Regions from separate parts of the Homo sapiens genome. Here all the other regions are linked to region 2. The links come from fine-mapping of genetic effects on gene expression. A gene starts in region 2. Each other region holds a variant in brackets. All regions are shown on one strand. Distances are between the middles of the regions. Region 1 overlaps DHX34 (DExH-box helicase 34). Region 2 holds the start of DHX34 (DExH-box helicase 34). Region 3 has its middle 20 kb from the start of MEIS3. Region 4 overlaps ZNF541 (zinc finger protein 541).

Region 1 (5,779 bases), 33 kb after region 2:
ATAGCGCCCTGCCCCTCCCACCTACTCCCTGTCTTCTGCCCCCTCTCTTTCAGTCCCTCCTGCTTTTTAGCCGGTCTTTGGACACCAATGGTGACTGCTCCCGCCTGGTGGCCGATGGCTGGCTGGAGCTGCAGCTAGCAGACAGTGAAAGTGCCATCCGACTCCTGGCGGCTTCCCTGCGGCTCCGTGCCCGCTGGGAAAGTGCCCTGGACCGGCAGCTGGCGCACCAGGCCCAGCAGCAGCTGGAGGAGGAGGAGGAGGATACGCCAGTCAGCCCCAAGGAGGTGGCCACCCTGAGCAAGGAACTCCTGCAATTCACGGCATCCAAGGTACCCTCCACCAGGGTGCCCGTGCCTCCCTATGGCCAGAAGGGGCATCCGTCACTGGGCTTGAGCCTCGGGAAGGCCTGGCTTCCCATTCACTCCACATGGGCACATTTGGGGGTTTTCAGGCCACAGAGGTTCAGTCACTTACACAAGGTCACTCCACTGGTCTGGGTGGAGCTAGGATTTGATCCCAGGAGCCTGGTTCCAGAGGCCACACTACCCACTGCTGCCTTGTTTACTAAGCACCTTCTGCAAGCGTGGCTGATCCCCTCTTGCTAACAGTAAAGGACAGGCAGGGTGTGAGAGGGAAGCCGTAGACGTCTGCTTGTGGATGGGAAGAACTGAACTGAGCAGACTTGAAACCAGCCCCTGACTCTTAGGTGGGGAGTGGAAATTGCTCGTGGTTCTACTTCATGTGGGTGGGGTGGGGAGAAGGGTACAATCCAGGCTGACTTCCTGGAGTAGAAGGGCTTGAGGACAAAGGAGCAGGAACCCAGTGAGCCATGGAGAGGGGACCAAGGCTGACATGCTAGGAGGAGGAGGGGGGAGGTGGCCAGACTTGAAGGTTAGACTCAAGGTCTGAATGGGGTCCCACCAGTGACAGGGGCAGAAGAGGGGCCTGGGGAGGGCAATTTAGATGGGGGTGGGTTATCAGGTATATTCTAGACAGACCCCTGGTCATGTGTGTCTGCAGCCAAATTGTGATTGGTGTAAGCACTTGGCTCCCGTAACTGCAAAGCCCGAGGGAGGGCTTCAGGCACAGCTGGATCCAGGTGCTTTGGCGGCATCTCCCTGAGTCTGTCTCTCTCCATTTCCTGTCTCTCCTTCCTTAGATTCCTTACAGCCTCCGGCGGCTCACAGGGCTAGAAGTCCAGAACATGTATGTGGGACCCCAGACCATCCCAGCCACCCCCCATCTTCCTGGCCTCTTTGGCAGCTCCACCCTGTCCCCCCACCCCACAAAGGGGGGCTACGCAGTCACTGACTTCCTCACCTACAACTGCCTCACGGTAAGCATGAACCCTCCTTCCCTGAAGGTGGGATTTCAGGAAGACCCCACCACCCCGTTTCACCTTAGTCCAGGGACATAGTTCCCAAGTGGGGCCCGTGGCCCTGAGGGCTTCTGGGAAGGGTCCCGGGGGGGCACTTGGGTGGTGGGTGGCACTTGGCGGGGGCCCAGCCCTGACAGCTGGCCTGCCACAGAATGACACAGACCTGTACAGCGACTGTCTCCGAACCTTCTGGACCTGCCCCCACTGTGGCCTGCATGCGCCCCTCACGCCCCTGGAGCGCATCGCCCATGAGAACACCTGCCCCCAGGCCCCACAGGATGGGCCCCCAGGTAAGCACAGGACTGTGGGGACCCGGCCACCTCTGCCCAGCCGTCTGCCCATCCCATGATGGTCTCCTGTGCGTGTGAGCACTTGCTAGAGCTTCGAGGACTGACGACCTCCACCCGCTGGCCCTGGCTGGTGCCACACACAGGCCTTGTCCTGAAGATCAGGAGCCCAAGGCAGGGAGAGCCTGGAGCGCCACCTCTTTCTGTCTGCCTGTCCCCTGTGGTGTCTCTGTGTTGCTGTCTTTGTCTCTGTTTCTGTCTCTCTGTGGCTATGTCTCTTGTTATTTTTCTCTGTCCTGCAGCTATCTCTGCCTTGGTCACCTCCACCCTGTTGTCACCCAGGGATGCCACACACTGGGGTTCAGTGGGGGAGATAGCACTGGGGCCACATGCCTCCATCCCCGGCTGGCTGTGTCTGCCTCTCAGTCTCCATGTCTCTCCTTGTGTCTTTCTCTCTGTCTCTCTCACTGGCAGGGATGCGGAGTAAAGACAGACCTGTGTATTTTTATTAATCTGGGAGGGCTTCCTGGAGGAGGCAAAACTGGGTTCTCCAAAGGCCAGGAGAGAACCTGAGCCCCACAGGTGCCTGGCATTTGGGTGCAGGTAGACCTGTGCACTGGAACACGCCCCTCACAGCCTCCTCCTTTTCCTCCCTTAGGGGCTGAGGAAGCTGCCCTCGAAACCCTCCAGAAGACATCTGTCCTGCAGAGGCCCTACCACTGCGAGGCCTGCGGGAAGGACTTCCTCTTTACACCCACAGAGGTGCTGCGCCACCGGAAGCAGCACGTGTGAGCTGGGCCAGGAGCCCTGCCCACCTCCGTGCAGCTGACCTGCCCTCCAGCCCAGGACTAGGGGCAGGACTCTTGCCTGAACCCCCAGCCTGGGCTTAGCCCTGTGGTCCTGTCCCAGTGCAGAGGGCCTGGAGCACGGATTGTGAATAAAGCCTCACATGCTGATACACACTGTTAGGCCTGCACCTGCCCATCCAGAAAGCAGCAGCTGCCTTGTTAGTCCTCCCCAGGGTCTAGCTTTCCTTCTTCCTGCTGCAGGGTGCTGCCTGAGGGGTCCTGGGTAGGAGGGGCGTTAGAGCCAGCAGGGACCTCCCATGTCTCCAGATTCCAGGTGCAGGTTCTTAGCACCTCCGCAGCCGCTCTCTCTTGAGTCCATCCTCAGTCTCTCCTACCCCTTGAAGTAGGGGGACCCTGAATTTGCCCATCCACCTGGGTCACTTTGAGAGTTGTGCAGGGGGGCTGGGAGCACTGGTGTTCACGTGGGACCACAGGCTGCACCATAAGACCCACTCACAATAAAAAAATAAAAGGCCGAGCCGGGCATGGTTGCTCACTCCCGTAATAAAAAAATAAAAGAACAGGCTGAGCCGGGCAT[G/A]GTTGCTCACTCCCGTAATCCCAGCACTTTGGGAGGCTGAGGCGGGTGGATCGCCTGAGGTCAGGAGTTCGAGACCAGCCTGGCCAACATAGTGAAACCCTGTCTCTACTAGAAATACAAAAACTTAGCTGGGTGTGGTGGTGGGCATCTTTAATCCCAGCTACTGGGGAGGCTGAGGCAGGGGAATCACTTGAACCTGGGAGGCAGAGGTTGCAATGAGCTGAGATCATGCCATTGCACTCCAGCCTGGGCGACAAGAGTGAAACTCCATCTCAAAAAAAAAAAAAAAAAAATCAGGCTGAGGCAGGTGGTTTGCCTGAGCTCAGGAGTTTGAGACCAGCCTGGGCAACACGGTGAAACCCCATCTCTATTAAAATACAAAAAATTAGCTGGGCGTGGCAGCGTGTGCCTGTAATCCCAGCTATTCAGGAGGCTGAGACAGGAGAATTGCTAGAACCCAGGAGGCGGAGGTTGCTTGTGAGCCGAGATCGTGCCACTGCACTCCAGCCTGGGTGACAGAGCGAGACTCCATCTCTAAAAGAAAAAAAGAAAATGAAAAGAACAATAAAATCACTCAGGAGAAAAAGAAGGCACGGCATAGGAATGGAAGGAGGACAACCTGTAGGTCCTACAGATGCGAAAAGGAGAAGAGAATACGATAAACAACGTGCCACACAGAAATTCACTCATTTGAAATGGAAAAAATTATTGAAAGACACTAGCTACCCAAAGCTCATTCAGGAAGAAATAGATAACCGGAACAACTCTATTAAGGAAATGTAATTCATAGTTAACAAAGAGAACAGGCTCAGATGGGCTCCCTGGTGACGTCTACCAAACATGGAAATGATACTCGCCCACACCCACTTGGCCACAGCATAGGGGAGGACGCCTCCTGACTGATGTTATGAGGTCAGCATTATCCTGCTGCTAAAAGCAGGCTATGACAATGCAAGAAAAGAAAACTCTAAGCCTTATGAACATAGACAAAAACCCTAAATAGGAGTTCAGCACATCATATTTAGCAATATATAAATACAGTACATCATGGCCAACTGGGGCTTATTCTAGGAATGGAAGGTTGATTTAACATTTGAAAATCAATCTGATTCACCATATTAGAAACAGAAAAAAAAAAAAAGGTTGGGCATGGTGGTTCATGCCTGTAATTCCAGCACTTTGGGAGGCCGATAAGGGTGGATCAGTTGAGTCCAGGAGTTCCAGACTGGGATGGGGAACATAGCAAGACCCTGTCTCTATTAAAAAACACAAAAATTAGCCAGGTGTGGTGGTGCACGCCTATAGTCCCAGCTGCTCGGGAGGCTGAGGTGGGAAGATCACTTGGTGTCAGAAGGCAGACATTGCAGTGAGCTGAGATTGTGCCACTGCACTCCAGCCTGGGCAACAGAGCAAGACCCCATCTCAAAGAAAAAAAGTATATAAACCCCTAGTCTTAGTCAGGGAGATGGATTTGAGAGTCATTTCCCATCTCCTTGGCTGCACATCTCATTAAAGCCTTCTTCTTGGCAATACTCGCTTTAGTGATTGGCTTTCTGTGCGACCAGCAGCAGGACCTGGACTGAACCCCTGATTTTTGGTAACAGATTCCATTCAACAGTTTTTTTTTTTTTTTTTTTTTTTTTTTTTTTTTTTTTTTTTTTGAGGCAGGGTCTCGTTCTGTTGCCCGGGCTGGAGTGCAGTGGTGCAATCTCAGCTTACTGCAGCCTCCACCTCCTGGGCTCAAGTGATCCTCCCAAATCAGTCTCCCAAGTACCTGGGATTACAGGCATGTGCCACCATGCCCAGCTAATTTTTGGGTGTGAATAGGTTTTTTTGTTTGTTTTTTGTAGAGAGTTTCACCATGATGCCCAGGTTGGTCTGGAACCATGGGCTTCCTTTCTTTCCAAGGAAGAAGGCTTTAATCAGATGCGTGGCTGAGGAGATGGGAAATCAGTCTCAAATCCGTCTCCCTAACTAAAACTAGGGGTTTATATACTTTTTTTCTTTGAGATGGGGTCTTGCTCTGTTGCCCAGGCTGGAGTGCAGTGGCACAATCTCAGCTCACTGCAATGTCTGCCTTCTGACACCAAGTGATCTTCCCACCTCAGCCTCCCGAGTAGCTGGGACTATAAGCGTGCACCACCACACCTGGCTAAATTTTGTGTTTGGTGATCTGCCCACCTCAGCTTCCCAAAATGCTGAGATTACAGGTGTGAGCCACTGCACCCGGCTCATTCAACAGTATTTATTTAATTTATTTATTTTTGAGGCGGAGTTTCGCTCTTGTTGCTGAGGCTGGAGTGCAATGGCTCAATCTCGGCTCACTGCAACCTCCGCCTCCCGGGTTCAAGTGGTTCTCCTGCCTCAGCCTCCCAAGTACCTGGGATTACAGGCGAGTGTCACCACACCCAGCTAATTTTGTATTTTTAGTAGAGACGGGGGTTTCTCTATGTTGGTCAGGCTGGTCTCGAACTCCCGACCTCAGGTGATCTGCCCGCCTCAGCCTCCTAAAAATGTTGAGATTACAGGCATGAGCCACCACGCTCAGCCTCAACAGTCTTTTAAAATGTTCCTCTTGAAGGCTAACATGCACAAATTATAAGTAAACAGCTTGGTGAATTTTCCCAGATGAAACATACCTGTGCCAGCAGCACCCAGATAAAAAAATAAAACACCAGCAGCCCTCCACCCGCTGCAGCCCAGCTCCTCCGTCTCCCAGGAGTGTCCA
Region 2 (5,779 bases):
CTATATAAATAGGTATAGGCTAAAAATAGGTATAGGCTGGGCGTGGTGGCTCATGTCTGTAATCCCAGTACTTTGGGAGGCCAATGCAGGTGGATCACCTGAGGTCAGGAGATCAAGACCATCCTGGCTAACATAGTGAAACCCTGTCTCTACTAAAAATACAAAAAATTAGCCAGGCGTGTTGGCGGGAGCCTGTAGACTCAGCTACTCGGGAGGTTGAGGCAGGAGAATGGCGTGAACCCAGGAGGCGGAGCTTGCAGTGAGCCGAGATCACACCACTGCACTCCAGCCTGGGTGACAGAGCAAGACTCCGTCTAAAAAAAAAAAATAGTAAGAAAGAAGGAAAGACACAAAGACAGAAAGAAGGAAGGAAAGAAAGCAAGCTGTTTTCCCCTGCCTTGCCCCTGCTCACCTTTGAATTCTTTTCTGGGCAAAGCCAAGAACCCTCGTGGGCTAAAACCCCGCTTTGGGGCTTAAAGTTTGCAAAATCCTCCCATTAATCTATTGGGACCAGTTGCCACTTAGGAGCATTCTTTGATAACTTTTACAAAACATCTTTTGTGGTTTTTGAAATGTTTTCATTTTGTAGATCATTAGCCCTTCTTTTTTGAACTGGAATACATTTCACGGGAATTTTCAAATTTAAGTCTGTGCAATGTTACATAAAATACCTTTGATTATTAAAAGCCATCTGTTTTGCTATAACTTCCCTTTTTTGTTCTAAAGTTTGTCTATTTCTGCTATTTGTTTTTTTACCATAGAAATATTGATTTCCTTAAGTTTTCAAAGAACCAAGTTATTAATAATTTCTCTAAGAACTAGTCTCAAGCTTGCTATACAATCCTATGGTTGATAGACTGTGGCTTTCTTGTTGATTTCCATTTGTTGTTCATTTCCTCCAATTTTCCTTTTTTAAAAATTATAATTATTGTTTGGATTATTTATTTATTTATTTATTTGTTTGTTTGTTTATTTGAGACAGAGTTTCTCCTTGTCGCCCAGGCTAGAGTGCAATGATGCGATGTTGGCTCACTGCAACCTCCACCTCCTGGGTTCAAGCGATTCTCTTGCCTCAGCCTCCCGAGAAGCTGGGATTACAGGTGTCCGTCATCATGCCTGGCTAATTTTTTATATTTTTAGTAGAGACGGGATTTCATCATGTTGGCTTAGCTGGTCTCGAACTCCTGACCTCAGGTAATCCACCTGCCTCGGCCTCCCAAAGTGCTGGGATTACAGGCGTGAGCCACCGCACCTGGCCTTGTTTGGAAATTTTAAGCAGAATGCTTAGTCCATTTATTCTTCTTCTTTTGATAATAATGTATGAATTGGCTTCTCTATCTCTAAGTTGTTTTCCAGAGGCTTGATAATTATATCCAACGTTCCACTTGACATCCCCAGTTGATGTCCAATGCATAACTCAAACAATATGCTGAAAACAGATCTTCGGATTTTCTCTCTAGCCTCTCTCCCACGTCTTCCTGATGGTAGTAGATGGTGACTCCATATTTCCAAATGCTCAGGCCAAAAACTTTAGAGTCCTTCTTTTTTTTAGACATAGAACTTTTTTCTGGCCAGGCACGGTGGCTCATGCCTGTAATCCCAGCACTTTGGGAGGCCGAGGTGGGCGGATCACGAGGTCAGGAGATCGAGACCATCCTGGCTAACACAGTGAAACCCCGTCTCTACTAAAAATACAAAAAATTAGCCGGGCGTGGTGGCGGGCGCCTGTAGTCCCAGCTATGCGGGAGGCTCAGGCAGGAGAATGGCGGGAACCTGGGAGGCGGAGCCTGCAGTGGGCCGAGATCGCGCCACCGCACTCCAACCTGGGCGACAGCGAGACTCCGTCTCAGAAAAAAAAAACAACAACACTTTTTTCTTTTTTTGAGACAGTCTGGCTCTGTCACCCAGGCTGGAGTGCGGTGGTACCATCATGGCTCACTGCAGCCTCAGTCTCTCAGCCTCCTAGGTTCAATCGATCCTCCCACCTCAGCCTCTTGAGTAGCTGGGACTACAGGCACACACTACCATATCCGACTAACTTTTGTATTTTTTTGTAGAAACAGGGGTTGGCCATATTGCCCAGGCTGGTGTGGAACGCCTGACCTCAGGTGATCCACCTACCCCGGCCTCTCAAACTGTTGGGATTACAGGCGTGAGCCGCCGTGCCCAGCTGTTTCTTCTTTCAGTTAATAAAAGAGAGGGTGCATTGCTGGCTAATGAGATTGTTTCTATACTTGGGGGTCTTCCTGAATGTGTGTGATTGAGTTTATTGCAGAGAAAGGTAACAGAAAATGGGGTTGTAGAAAGAAAAGAGGTAGAGGCTGAGTGAGATGCCCCACATCTGTAATCTCAGTGCTTTGGGAGGCCAAGGCGGGCGGATCACTTGAGATCAGGAGCTGGAGACCAGCCTGGCCCAAATCGTGAAACCTCGTCTCTACTAAAAATACAAAAATCAGCCAGGTGTAGTGGTGTGCGCCTGTAATCCCAGCTACTCGAGAGGCTGAGGCAGGAGAATGGTTTGAACTTGGGAGGCGGAGATTGCAATGAGGTGAGATAACGCCACTGCACTCTAGCCTGGGAGACAGTGAGACTATGTCTCAAAAGAAAAAAAAAAGTTCCTGGGCCCCAGACCAGCTCTCTCTTTGGGTTAAAACCCCGGCGTCCCGGAGCTGAGGCGCACGTGGCTATGCTTGGGGAGGAGAGGGCGGGGCCGGGGAGGAGGCGCTTGCAAGTCTGTACCGCAATGCCTCTACTGGCCTCTAGAGGGCGCAATCACTCGAGGCTCCGCCCCAAGCGAGGCGGGGCGGAAGCGTGCTGTGCACAGGCGCAAGATGGGTCTTGGGCAGCCCAGAGCTTCCGATTGGCTCTTCTGTGGTGGCGGGGCGGGGTCAGAACGAGATGGCTGTGTGCGCAGGCGCAAGACTAGCGCTCTTGGGACCGGAAGTTAAGGCGTTCGCGGCGTGTGGTAAGTGAGGGGGGCGGGACGGGTGTACCGGGTTGTGGCGGCGATGGCTGTCGGAGTTGGGCCGCTTGGGGGTAGTTTGGGGTGCGAGTCCAGGGGCGAGGGAAGTCTCGAGATGAGGAGAAATGTAGGAGGCAGCCGAAGGGCCGGCAAACGCGGACAGAGATGGCACCTGAGCGTCCCTGGGAGAACCTGGGCGACAGGCCAGAGACCGAAAGAAATGGAGGCACGAAAAGAAGCTTCGAGAAACTGAGGGACTGAAAGACGAGGGTGTTGGGAGAGGAGGGAAGCTGAAAACTAGAGAGCGTGGGCGAGAGTGCCGATGGGTTCCAGCGAGAGTCTTAGAGCCCACGAGGCCGAGAGGCGTGGTCGCCCATGAACTTGGGGAGTGGAGGGAAAAGTCGGAAACTGATCGTGGACACTAGAAACAGAAAAAATGGAATTTAGATGGAGAAACGAGACACTGAATCACGGGGGAGACCGAGAGATACGGAAGGATGGAGACAGTTGAAATAGGAAGAACCCCACAAAAGCTGGAGATAATGGAGAACGATGCTGAGAAATGGAAAAGCGAGGGAGTGGAGCCCGAACCCCTGGATTTGAGTGGCTCATGTAACACTCGGCTACTCACTTAGCCTCTCTATTGCTCAGTAAAATAGGGGGTGATCATAGTGCCTGACAGTCGTGAGAAAAGTGTGTGTGTGTATGTACATAGGTGTGGGATAGGAATAGATCATGCAGATAGGATAGGTCTGTGTGTTAATGTGAGTAAGTAAGCATGAGCTATTACTAAAGCTTCTGATATTGGGAGATAAAGTATTAGATGGGGAAATGGAGAGAGGTGGTGATGGAGAGTGAATACTGGAAGGACAAAAGGGAGGAAAAAAAGATTCAAACAGAAAATGAGAAAGGGCGTGGTGACTCACTCCTGTCATCCACAGCACTTTGGGAGGCTGCGGTGGGAGGATCACTTGAGCTTGGGAGGTCGAGGCTGCTGTACGCCGTGATTGTGCCACTGCACTTCAGGCTGGGTGACAGAGTGAGACCCTGTTTCAAAAAAACAAAAATGAATTTTTTTTTTTTTTTTTTGAGATGGAGTTTCGCTCTTGTTGCCCAGGCTGGAGTGCAGTGGTGCGATCTTGGCTCACTGCAACCTCTGCCTCCTGGGTTCAAGCGAGTCTCCTGCCTCAGCCTCCAGAGTAGCTGGGATTACAGGCAGGTGCCACCACCCTGGCTAATTTTGTATTTTTAGTAGAGACGGGATTTTTCCATGTTCGTCAGGCTGGTCTCGCACTCCCGACCTCAGGTGATCTGCCTGCCTCAGCCTCCCAAAGTGCTGGGATTATAGGCGTGAGCCACCATGCCCGGCCTGAAAAAGCATTTTTTTTTTAATGAGAAAGATGGAGAAAGTCAAATGGAGAACTGAAGAGAGATGGAGAAAGGAAGAGTTGGATTACAGAGAAAAATCAGACTACAGAATGACTCATAAGTGAAGAGAGATGCGAGCTGACTAGGACAGGGAAGAGAGATGAGGGTGATGATGAACAAGACGGACTGAAAAAGAGACAGAGGCCTGAAGATGGAGTGGAGAGAGATGGAGGGGACAGAGGGGGAAACAAACCCACTGAAGGCCATGAGCCCAGGGCAAATAGGCCAAGAGACCAAAAGATGGTCAGAGACACAGTTATACAGAAACTAGAAGATGCAGACAATCTAGAAGCCAAAAAAGATAGATACCTTGAGAGGAGCGGGATGCTGTCAGTGGGGCCCAGCATGCATAAGCAGTTTCTAGCCTCAGAAGAATGCTCTCATTTTCTTTTTCTTTTTTTTTTTTTTTTTTTTTTTTTGAGACAGAGTCTCGCTCTGTTGCCCAGGCTGGAGTGCAGTGGCTCAGTCTTGGCTTCCTGCAAGCTCTGCCTCCAGGGTTCGAGTGATTCTCCTGCCTCAGCCTCCCGAGTCGCTGGGACTACCCGAGTAGCCAGGTGCCCGCCACCACACCTGGCTAATTTTTTTTCTCCAGCCTGGGTGACAGAGCAAGACTCCATCTCAAAACAAAAAAGACTCCAACTGTAAGCAAAAAGGCATTTTCTGGTGTAGCTGAGAAGTGGGGGGTTGAAGGGAACTAAGCTTCAAGACCTAAATGATGTTGCCAAGCTTCTCTTCCTCTCCCTCTTTCACCTCTCCCTGTGGTGCAGTGACCATTCTTGTGCCTGTATCTAGTTATTTCTCTAGGATAGATTTTAGGAAAGACTCTGTCATGTTCCAGAGCTACCACAAAGAGCTCCAGGCTTATATCAAACTTGCCTGATTATGATGGATAAAATGAGAGCTTTTCTGTCCTAGCAACCGAGTGTAAATTCCACAAAAGGGCCCTGATTGGCCCTTCTTGGATCATGTGTCCGCTTCTCAGGCCAATCCTTGGTTAGAGGGGGAGTAGACTACTAAGACTGGCCAGGTCTTTGTTACTTGCCTACCCAATAGGGGTTCTTTGTCTTAAAGGCCCTCAGAACCATGTAGAATCGAGGAAGGGCTGTTGTCCAAAGGAAGGTGGATACTGTCCTCAGAAAAGAAGTAAAGGGTTGTGCCAGGCAGGCAAAAATTACATATAACACTTGCAAAATTTTGCCTTTTATCTCAATGTTCTGAATCTCACTGGACCCCGGGTGAAGAACCCTTGCCTTATTCTTTTCATTATATCACACCTCTCTCCTATTACTGCCTGTGGAGACAAGGTTCTGCTGTTGGTTGGCCATGTGACCTACATCTCTCCTTTAGGTCTCAGGTGAAACATCCCCTCCTCCCAGGATCCTTCCCTGA
Region 3 (5,779 bases), 50 kb after region 2:
CTCTTCCTTTGCACCCATCATCCCAGCCTCTCTTCGCTTTCACTTGGACTGACCCTGACACCCATCAGGCTCAGCAAACTACCTGGGCTGTACTGCCGCAAGGCTTCACAGACAGCCCCCATTACTTCAGTCAAGCCCAAATTTCATCCTCATCTGTTACCTATCTCAGCATAATTATCATAAAAACACAGGTGCTCTCCCTGCTGATCGTGTCCAATTAATCTCCCAAACCTCAATCCCTTATAAAACAACTCCTTTCCTTCCTAGGCATGGTTAGTGTGGTCAGAATTCTTACACAAGAGCCAGGACCGCACCCTGTAGCCTTTCTGTCCAAACAACTTGACCTTACTGTTTTAGCCTAGCCCTCATGTCTGCGTGCAGCGGCTGCCGCTGCTTTAATACTTTTAGAGGCCCTAAAAATCACAAACTATGCTCAACTCACTCTCTACATTTCTCATAACTTCCAAAATCTATTTTCTTCCTCATACCTGACGCATGTACTTTCTGCTCCCCGGCTCCTTCAGCTGCACTCACTCTTAAGTCCCACAATTACCATTGTTCCTGGCCCGGACTTCAATCTGGCCTCCCACATTATTCCTGATACCACACCTGACCCCCATGACTGTATCTCTCTGATCCACCTGATATTCACCCCATTTCCCCATATTTCCTTCTTTCCTGTTCCTCACTCTGATCACGCTTGATTTACTGATGGCAGTTCCACCAGGCCTAATCGCCACACACCAGCAAAGGCAGGCTATGCTATAGTACAAGCCACTAGCCCGCCTCTTAGAACCTCTCATTTTCTTTCCATCGTGGAAATCTGTCCTCAAGGAAATCACTTCTCAGTGTTCCATCTGCTGTTCTACTACTCCTCAGGGATTATTCAGGCCCCCTCCCTTCCCTACACATCAAGCTCAGGGATTTGCCCCCACCCAGGACTGGCAAATTAGCTTTACTCAACATGCCCCGAGTCAGGAAACCAAAATACCTCTTAGTCTAGGCAGACACTTTCACTGGATAGGTACAGGCCTTTTCTACAAGGTCTGAGAAGGCCACCGCAGTCATTTCTTCCCTTCTGTCAGACATAATTCCTCAGTTTAGCCTTCCCACCTCTATACAGTCTGATAACAGACCAGCCTTTATTAGTCAAATCAGCCAAGCAGTTTTTCAGGCTCTTAGTATTCAGTGAAACCTTTATATCCCTTACGGTCCTCCGTCTTCAGGAAAAGTAGAACAGACTAAAGGTCTTTTAAAAACACACCTCACCAAGCTCAGCCGCCAACTTAAAAAGGACTGGACAATACTTTTACCTCTTTCGCTTCTCAGAATGCTGCAGGGTACAGCCTATTTGAGCTCCTGTATGGACAATCCTTTTTATTAGGCCCCAGTCTCATTCCAGACACCGGACCAACTTAGACTGTGCCCCCAAAAAACTTGTCATCCCTACTATCTTCTGTCTAGTCATACTCCTATTCTCCGTTCTCAACTACTCATACGTGCCCTGCTCTTGTTCACACTGCCGGTTTACACTGTTTCTCCAAGCCATCACAGCTGATATCTCCTCGTGCTATCCCCAAACTGCCACTCTTAACTCCTGAAGTAAACAAATAATCTTTGCTGGCAGGACTATGCTGAATCTCCTTAGGCACTCTCTAATCAGATGTCCTGAGTCGTCCCAATTCTTAGACATTTTATACCTGTTTTTCTCCTTCTCTTATTCCATTTAGTTTTTCAATTCATACAAAACTGTACCCAGGCCATCACCAATAATTCTAAATGACAAATGTTTCTTCTAACAACCCCACAATATCACCCCTTACCACAAAATCTTCCTTCAGCTTAATCTCTCCCACTCTAGGTTCCCACGCCGCCCCTAATCCCGCTTGAAGCAGCCCCGAGAAATCGCCCATTCTCTCTCCATACCACCCCCCAAAAAAATTTTCGCCGCCCCAACACTTCAACACTATTTTGTTTTATTTTTCTTATTAATATAAGAAGGCATGAATGTCAGGCCTCTGAGCCCAAGCCAAGCCATCGCATCCCCTGTGACTTGCACGTATACGCCCAGGTGGCCTGAAGTAACTGAAGAATCACAAAACAAGTGAATATGCCCTACCCGGCCTTAACTGATGACATTCCACCACAAAAGAAGTGAAAATAGCCTGTTCCTGCCTTAACTGATGTCACTGTCTTGTGAAATTCCTTCTCCTGGCTCATCCTGGCTCAAAAGCTCCCCCACTGAGTACCTTGTGACCCCCCACTCCTGCCCACCAGAGAACAACCCCCCTTTTTCCTTTACCTACCCAAATCCTGTAAAACAGCCCCGCCCTTATCTCCCTTCACTGACTCTCTTTTTGGACTCAGCCCTCCTGCCCCCAGGTGAAATAAACAGCTTTATTGCTCACACAAAGCCTGTTTGGTGGTCTCTTCACACGGACGCGCATGAAAAGTCTCATCGTCACAGTCAGGAACCTACACAGAGACACACAACCTATACCAAGGCACGTGTGACGGACACCGCCACTCAGCGACA[G/C]ACACACACACCACATTCAGCAACAGGACACGGGCGGTGCCTCCAGCCACACCGACATCCCTCAACCACTGCCCTCGACCACCACATTCCAAGTCCACAGGCCCAGAGGACACACAGGGGTCAGACACACACCAACTGCAGCCCCCGAGCCCCGCCTGCCTATCCCCTGGGTCCTCACCCCACGACCCAGGATGCCCCTGAACCAGGGGCCCCTCCTGCTCTGAGATGCCAACCTACCATACACGCAGGTCCAGTGGCTGCTTCCTCCTCTCAGGAAGTGGGGGAGATATTTTTAGTTACAATTAACCTCCCACCCAATTTCCCTTCTCCCCAGGCACATCCAATTGGTTTAATTAGAGATGATTAAGTTAATGAGAGGCATTTCCAGATTCTGGGAAAAGGGGGAGGAGGGGAAGAGGAGAGCTGTCCCCTCCCCAACTTCCCAGTGTACCAGCCGCTGGGACCCCTTCCCAGCACCAGGCAGGGGATACACTAAGCAACTGCCTCCCCTCTCAGCCGACCTCAAAGTCTTGGCCTGGCCCTGCCCCTCCCCCATATTCCTTCCCCCACCTGCCATCAAGGGAGGGTGATTGTTTGAAGTCCTTCCTGCTGTCCACCCATCACCCATCCCACCTGAGTCCCGGGGAGTTTTGGGAGAGAGAAACTCTCATCATAGTCACGAAAACAATATCAGGCCAGGTGCGGTAGCTCACGCCAGTATTCCCAGCATCTTGGGAGGCCGAGGCGGCTGGACGGCTTGAACCCAGGAGTTCAAGACCAGCCTGGGAACACCATGAAAAGCCATCTCTACCAACAAATATAAATAATTAGCCAGGCATGGTGGTTTGTGCCTGTAGTCTCGGCTGCTGAGGAGGCTAAGGAAGGAGGATTGCTGGAGTGTTGGAGTTTGAGGCTGCAATGAGCTGTGATTACAGAGGGAGACCCTATCTCAAAAACAAAAGCAATTTAAAAAATTAAAAATCAGGCCAGGCACGGTGGCTCACATCTGTAATCCCAGCACTTTGGGAGGCCGAGGCAGGTGGATCACTTGAGGTCAGGAGTTCGAGACCAGCCTGGCCAACACAGCAAAACCCCGTCTCCACTAAAAATTACAAAAATTAGCCAGGCCTGGTGGTGCATGCCTGTAGTCCAAGCTACTTGGGAGGCTGAGGCAGCAGAATTGCTTGAACCTGGAAGGAGGAGGTTGTGGTGAGCTGAAATCACACCCCTGCATTCCAGCCTGGGCGACAGAGTGAGACTCTTGTCTCAAAAAAATTAAATAAATAAATAAATAAAAATTAGAATTTCAGAGAATTCTATTTTAAGAAAAAGAGGCTGGGGCCGGGCGTGGCAGCTCACGCCTGTAATCCCAGCACTTTGGGAGGCCGAGGCGGCGGATCACCTGAGGTCAGGAGTTCGAGACTAGCCTGGCCAACATGGCGAAACCCCATCTCTACAAAAGTACAAAAATTAGCCGGGCATGATGGTGGGTGTCTGTAATTCCAGCTACTCGGGAGGCTGATGTGGAAGAATCACTTGAACCTGGGAGGTGGAGGTTGCAATGAGCTGAGATCACACCATTGCACTCCAGCCTGGGTGAGAGAGACAGTGAGACTCCATCTCAAAAAAAAAAAAAGAAAAGAGAGGCTGGAAGCACAGTGGTTAGTGTCCAGGCCCTGGAGCCAGGCTGCCTGGGTTCAAATGGAGCCCAGCCTCACAATCTCCAGCTGTGTGACCTTGGATGAGCCACTTCACCTCTCTGGTCCTGCTTCCTCACCTGGGAAATGGGGACCGTGATGGCACCCACCTCCTGGGGCTGCCATAGGGTTTAACAGATTCCCAGGTATACGGCTCCTAGAACAGAGCCTGGGACACAGCACTTACTGAAGGGCTCCATAAGGTCATAAAAGTGGCAGCCCATGCTCTCATCCTGTGCCTGTTCTGCTTTTTGTGACACTCATCCCTTTCTTCCTTTTTTGAGATGGAGTCTCGCTCTGTCACCCAGGCTGGAGTGCAGTGGCATGATCTCAGCTCACTGCAACCTCCACCTTTTGGGTTCAAGGGATTCTCCTGCTTCAGTTTGCCAAGTAGCTGGGACTACAGGCGCCCGCCACCATGCCCGGCTAATTTTTATATTTCAGTAGAGATGGGGTTTCACCATGTTGCCCAGGCTGTGTCCTCAAGTGATTTGCCTCCCAAAATGCTGGGATCACAGGCGTGAGCCACCACTCCTGGCCTATCCTAAGATTTTGTTCATTCACTCGTCTGCTCAGCGGATATTTTCTTTCTTTTTTTCGGGGGGCAGAGGGGGACGGAATCTCGCTCTGTTGTCCAGGCTGGAGTGCAGTGGTATGATCTCAGCTCACTGCAACCTCTACCACCTCCTGGGTTCAAGTGATTCTCCTGCCTCAGCCTGCTGAGTAGCTGGGATTACAGGCATGTGCCACCACACCTGGCTAATTTTTTGTATTTTAGTAGAGACGGGGTTTCGCTATGTTGGCCAGGCTGGTCTTGAACTCCTGACCTCAAGTGATCCTCCCACCTCGGCCTCTCAAAGTGCTGGGATTACAGGCGTGAGCCACCGCGCCCGGCTGAGTGTGGCATATCTTCTGTGCATCCTTTATGTGTGTGTATGTTTCCGAGTGTGCATGTGCGTATTTGCATGTGTGTCTGTTTGTAGCGATGTGTGTCTCTGTGCAAATCTCTCCATCCAGGCCCACCCCAAAGGGACTCCGGGGGTCCAGGAACACATTTTTCACGGGGTCCTTCAAAAACCCACACACGTGCCCCTTGGGCCTTGAGCACAGAGCAGCAGTGTACGTGGTTGGGGGTGCCCGAGAGACTCAGAGGTCCAAGGATGGCTCTGGGGAGAGGATGGCAAAGGGGGCGCTTGGATGGCGGAGGGGCTGAGGGGCACTTGGGAGAGGGGACTGGAAGGCAGTGAGCCAAGACGAAGCAGCCCGGGTCTGAAGGAAAGAGCTCACCTGGCCTCTGAAGGAGAAGGGAGGGGGAGGCCCCGAAGATGTGGGTTTCCAGTGGGGAAGGGGACAGAGAGAGACAAGGTCTGAACAAGACAGAGACAGAAAGAATGGCTGGGCGCGGTGGCTCATACCTGTAACCCCAGCACTTTGGGAAGTGGAGGTGGGTGGATCACCTGAGGTCAGGAGTTCAAGACCAGCCAGGCCAACATGGTGAAACTCCGTCTCTACTAAAAATACAAAAAGTAGCCGGGCGTGGTAGCGC
Region 4 (5,779 bases), 180 kb after region 2:
GGAGCAACAGAACCAGATTTACCCTCTCGTCCAAAACAATGAAAACACAGAGTCAAAATATAAACAATGTTTGGCAAGACACCAGGCGTCATTCAACAAAGGGCAGTGAACCCTGACAGGAAGCAAGCTGCCACCGCTCCAGCTTATCAACTTGTGTTTCCAGGCCACCACCCAGGCAGGGGCAATTTAGGCAGAACCCAGCAGGACTTAGGGAGCTGAGGTGGAGCACAGTGCCTCCGGAGACCACGGCGGTAGAGCCCACAGGACAGAGGATGGGAGAGGAGAGAGCTACACACAGAACATTCCAGAGATGGGGAGCAAATTTCCCCCAAGAACTCACCCAAAGACTGCCCAGCACATGCATGGGAAGAGACCAGCCAAAGCTGGGCAAAGAGCCATCCAAAAGGATGAGAGGGGAAAGTGTGTGCTGCTCCTACAGGGCCAGGAAGAGTGCCCGTTCCCACAGCCAGAGTGGGAAATTTTATGATGCAGGGGGCACTGGGTAGGGCAGTGACACAGTCTTGCCTCAGTAAGGAGAAATAATCAGCCTTAGAGAAGAGCTATGCTGGTCCCATCTAAAAAATCTAAAACTGAACCTAAAAGTAACTGTGTCCCAGAACAAAACTCAAGAATATTTACAAGGCTGCAAAAATATCCAGCATCCAACAGCTAACATTCACAATGCCCGTGATCTGGTGAAAATCACCATGCACGCAAAGACGCAGGATAACACGGCACATCAGGAGGAGAAAACCCAATGTATCAAAGTCAACCCACCAGAGACACAGGTGTTAGAATGAGCAGGGAAGGACATGAAAGGTTACCATAACTGTTTAATATATGTTCAAAGAGTTATGCCAGAGGCCAGGCGCGGTGGCTCACTTGAAATCCCAGCACTTTGGGAGGCCGAGGCAGGAGGATCACCTGAGGTCAGGAGTTTGAGACCACCCTGGCCAACATGGGGAAACCCCATCTCTACTAAAAATACAAAAAATTTAGCCGGGTGTGGTGGCACGCACCTGTAATCCCAGCTACTCAGGAGGCTGAGGCAGCAGAATCGCTTGAACCCAGGAGGTGGAGGTTACAGTGAGCTGAGATCGTACCACTGCACTCCAGACTGGGTGACATAGCGAGACTCTGTCTAAAAAAAAAAAAAAAAAAAGAGTTATACCAGAGCTAGGTGTGATTGCACACACCTGTAGTCCCAGCTACTCAAAGTTGGAGGATCACTTGAGCCCAGGAGGTCAAAGGGTGCAGTGAACTATGATCACACCCCTGTACTCCAGCTTGGGCGACAGAGTGAGATCCTAGATCTTAAAAGAAATAAGAACCAGTAAAACCTTCAAAACACTGCTAAGAGAAATTAAAGATGATGCATAGAGACACAGCCCCTGTTCATGAGTCAGAAACTGAATGTTGTTAGAATGTCAACTCTCCTTGGCTGGGTGCGGTGGCTCACGCCTGTAATCCCAGCACTTTGGGAGGCTGAGGCAGGTAGATCACCTGAGGTCAGGAGTTCAAGATCAGCCTGGCCAACATGGTGAAACCCTGTCTCTACTAAAAATACAAAAATTAGCCAGGTGTGGTTGTGCGCACCTGTAATCCCAGCTACTCGGGAGGCTGAGGTACGAGAATCGCTTGAACCCGGGAGGTGGACGTTGCAGTGAGTGAAGAGCGCGCCACTGCACTCCAGCCTGGGCAACGAGAGTGAAACTCTGTCTCCAAAAAAAAAAAAAAGTCAACTCTCCTCAATTGGCCTATAGAGCCAATGCAGTACCAATCAAAATCCTAGCAGGTTTTTTGTTTTGTTTTGTTTTGTTTTTTTTGGTAAAAATGGATAAGCTACTTAGAAAGTTCATATGGTAATACATGATCTTAAGACTTAGAAAGCTACAGTAGTAAAAACAGTATGGTATTACATTTTTTTGTCTTTTCAACAAAAGGTACAAATGAATATCCACATGCAAAAAATGAACTTTAACTCATACTTTACACCATATACAAAAATTAACACAAACTGAATTGTAAACCTAATTGTAAAACCTAAAACTATAAAACTTCTAGAGAAGGCCGGGCAAGGTGGCTCACGCCTGTAATCCCAGCACTTTGGGAGGCCGAGGCGGGCAGATCACGAGGTCAGGAGATAGAGACCATCCTGGTTAACACGGTGAAACCCCGTCTCTACTAAAAATACAAAAAATTAGGCGGGCATGGTGGTGGCATGTGCCTGTAGTCGCAGCTACTCGGGAGGCTGAGGCAGGAGAATGGCATGAACCTGGAAGGCGTAGCTTGCAGTGAGCCAAGATCTCGCCACTGCACTCCAGTCTGGGCGACAGAGCGAGACTCCGTCTCACAAAAAAAAAAAAAAAAAAAAAAAACTTCTAGAGAAAACAAGGGGAAAATCTTTGTGGTTGGGTTAGGCAAAGAATTCTTAGATACAACACCAAAAGCACAGTCCATAAAAGAAAAATTAATAAATGACTTCATCAAAATGACAAAATTTTTCTTTAAAAGACATTGTTAAGAGATTAAAAAGCTACAGATTGGGAGAAAACATTCACAAAGCATGGATCTGGATAAATGACGTGTCCTGAATCAATAAAGAACTGCTGTAACTCAATAATAAAAACACAGCCGGCTGGGCGCGGTGGCTCACGCCTGTAATCCCAGCACTTTGGGAGGCCAAGGTGGGCAGATCACCTGAGGTTGGGAGTT[C/T]GAGACCAGCCTGGTCAACATAGCAAAACCCCGTCCCTACTAAAAATACAAAAATTAGCCAGGCGTGGTAGCAGGCGCCTGTAATCCCAGCTACTCAGGAAGCTAAGGCAGGAGCATCGCTTGAACCTGGGAGGCAGAGGTTGCAGTGAGCATGGATTGCGCCACTGCATTCCAGCCTGGGCAACAGAGTGAGACTCCATCTCAAAAAAAAAAAAAAAAAAAGAAAACACAGACATCTCAATAAAAACATATGCAAGAGATATGAACAGACACCTCACCAAATAAGGCATACAGACAGCAAACAGGCCCATGAAAAGATGCTCAGCATCGTCAGTTGTGAAGGAAACACAATGCGATGCCACCACACTGTCATGAGAATGGCTGGAATTAAAAGGACTGGCCCTACCCAGGGCTAGCGAGTTTGTGGAGCAACTAGAAATCTCTTTTCCTGCCGGTAGGAATGTGAAATGATACAACTACTTTGGAAAATTGTTTGGCGGTTTCTTAAAAAGTTAAGCATACACCTACTAAGTCATTCCATTCCTGGTATTTACTCCTCTAGAAAACAAAGTACATGTCCATACCAAGACTGGTACCTGAATGTTCATAACGAATTTATTTATAGTCATCCCAAACTGGAAACCACTCAAATGTCCACCAACAGGCAAATGATTCTTTAAACCGTGGTACATCCACCCAGTGGAATACTATTCAGCAGTGAAAAGGGGAGACCTATCAATACCTGGAACATGGATGAACTCAAAATCATGATGCTGAGTGTGAGAAAGCTGGACCAAGTAGAGTCCATACTGTGTGACTACTCCATTTATAGCAAACTCTAGGAAATGAAAACGAATTTACAGTGCCCTGGCAGATCAGTGCTGACTGAGGACAGGGGGTGCAATGGGGAGTGATTACTATGTGGCAGGAGGAGATTCAGGGCTGAGGGACATGCTCATTATCTTGACTGTGGTGATGGTTTCCCAGGTATAGTATCAATATGTCAAAACTTAGCAAATCTTATTATACTGCAATTATGTGCAATTTTGTATACATCCAATTTTTTTTTTAGAACAGAAAATAAGCAGCAGGACATTATATGCAGTGAGATCTCATCCTTTGGCTTTTTTCGGGGTGGTGAGAGTCTCATCTTGTCACCCAGGCTGGAGTGCAGTGGTGCAATCTTGGCTCATTGCAGCCTTCACCTCCTATGCTCAAGCAATCCTCCCACCTCAGCCTCCCGAGTAGCTGGGACCACAAGCACGCGGCACCATGCTAGGCTAGTTTTTAACTTTTTTGTAGAGACAAGGTCTCACTATATTGCCCAGGCTGGTCTTGAACTCCTAGCCTCAAGCAATCCTCCCACCTTGGCCTCCCAAAGTGCTAGGATTACAGGCGTGAGCCACTGCGCCTGACCTCATCCTTTTTTTCTTTTTTTGAGACGGAGTTTCACTCTTGTTGTCCAGGCTGGAGTGCAGTGGCGAGATCTTGGCTCACCGCAACCTCCGCTTCCCGGGTTCAAGCGATTCTCCTGTCTCAGCCTCCCGAGTAGCTGGGATTACAGGCATGTGCCACCATGCCCAGCTAATTTTGTATTTTTAGTAGAGACAGGGTTTCTCCATGTTGGTCAGGCTGGTCTCGAACTCCCAACCTCAGGTGATCCACATGCCTCGGCCTCCCAAAGTGCTGGGATTACAGGCATAAACCACCACGCCAGGCCCTTTTTTTTTTTTTTTTTTTGAGACAGAGTCCTGGGCCGGGCGCCGTGGCTCACGCCTGTAATCCCAGCACTTTGGGAGGCTGAGGCAGGTGGATCACCTGAGGTCGGGGGTTCGAGACTAGCCTGACCAACATGGAGAAACCCCATCTCTACTAAAAAATACAAAATTAGCTGGGCATGGTGGCGCATGCCTGTAATCCCAGCTACTCGGAAGGCTGAGGCAGGAGAATCGCTTGAACCCGGGAGGCGGAGGTTGCGGTGAGCCAAGATTGCGCCACTGCACTCCACCCTGAGCAACAAGAGCAAAACTCCGTCTCAAAAAAAAAAAAAAAAAAAAGAGACAGAGTCCTACTCTGTTGCCCAGCCTGGAGTGCAGTGGCACAATCCCCACTCACTGCAACTCTGCCTCCCGGGTTCAAACGATTCTCATGCCTCAGCCTCCTAACTAGTTGGGATTACAGGCACTCACCACCATGCCCGGCTAATTTTTGTATTTTTAGTAGAGACAGGGTTTCACCATGTTGGCCAGGCTGGTCTTGAACTCCTGATCTCAAGTGATCCTCCCGCCTTTGGCCTCCCAAAGTGTTGGGATTACAGGCGTAAGCCACCATGGCCGGCCCTTATCTTTTTTAAAGTACATGCATACCTATATATATAAAATTTGTACAGACAGAAATGCCTGTTGCTTGGTGGAATAGGTAACAGAGGTTGCCAAGCAGAAGTAGGACTGCGGGGAGGGGCATGGAAGACTGTTCTGTGCAGGTGATGCAGGTCTGTACCATCTGGAGCTGTTCATGAGGATAGCTTTTTGACATTGTAAACTGTCTACAGTAAGAGTGCTGCCACAGGCAGGTGAGGGTGGGGCCCTCCGACCCCCGACCAGCCCTGCAGCTCTAGCTTGTCTCAGCTGTGTGAGGCAGGGCCTTGGACACCAGCCCACATTCACTTTACCATCTTGTGTATCAAGTAGAAGTCCTTCTTGTGGGCATAGAACGCCTTCTTAAAAAGCCTCTTCTCTATAGGGGTCCAGACGTCTGAACCTATCAAAGAACACAGCCAACAGGGGGAAGGCCATTTGTCCTGGGACCACAGCCATGGCTGAAATGCAGACCACCTTCCCATTTATAGCTGCCATTACTGAGTACCAATTATGTGCCAATCTCATAAAAAACTCAAAAAGTCTCCAGAAGGGAGGGACCACTACTAGCCCCACTTAACAGATGTGGCAACTGAGGCTTCAGTCGCTTGCTAAAGGCAGGTGGGGGCCCTGGCATCCTGTTTCCAGAGCTGATGGGTTCAACCACTGAACCTAAGCCCATCTTCCCTCCCCCTGGCCATGATCAT

What was found. PIP is the estimated chance that this variant, and not a neighbour inherited with it, causes the effect.
Region 1: its variant is the best candidate, but not a certain one, in a credible set for the expression of DHX34 in blood mononuclear cells (TOPMed, PIP 0.79).
Region 3: its variant is the best candidate, but not a certain one, in a credible set for the expression of DHX34 in monocytes after LPS (Fairfax 2014, PIP 0.68).
Region 4: its variant is the best candidate, but not a certain one, in a credible set for the expression of DHX34 in whole blood (TOPMed, PIP 0.80).

What each region holds. Positions count from the first base shown.
Region 1 is chr19:47,379,657-47,385,435 of GRCh38, forward strand. It overlaps DHX34 (DExH-box helicase 34), which reads left to right. Exons shown (of 17, transcript NM_014681.6): 14 at 54-329; 15 at 1,160-1,336; 16 at 1,530-1,668; 17 at 2,324-3,048. The coding sequence ends at 2,457. Among named protein-coding and RNA genes, the nearest start is that of DHX34, 33 kb to the left of the region's middle. The variant G/A (reference allele first, on the strand shown) is at 3,052.
Region 2 is chr19:47,346,388-47,352,166 of GRCh38, forward strand. DHX34 (DExH-box helicase 34) reads left to right here and starts at 2,928. Exons shown (of 17, transcript NM_014681.6): 1 at 2,928-2,965. C5AR2 (complement C5a receptor 2) reads left to right here. Exons shown (of 2, transcript NM_001271749.2): 2 at 1-942. RefSeq lists an enhancer at 2,768-3,672.
Region 3 is chr19:47,396,308-47,402,086 of GRCh38, forward strand. No RefSeq gene overlaps it. Among named protein-coding and RNA genes, the nearest start is that of MEIS3, 20 kb to the right of the region's middle. RefSeq lists enhancers at 1,851-2,518, 5,583-5,779. The variant G/C (reference allele first, on the strand shown) is at 2,537.
Region 4 is chr19:47,523,564-47,529,342 of GRCh38, forward strand. ZNF541 (zinc finger protein 541) reads right to left here. Exons shown (of 17, transcript NM_001277075.3): 14 at 5,387-5,475. Among named protein-coding and RNA genes, the nearest start is that of NAPA, 11 kb to the left of the region's middle. The variant C/T (reference allele first, on the strand shown) is at 2,716.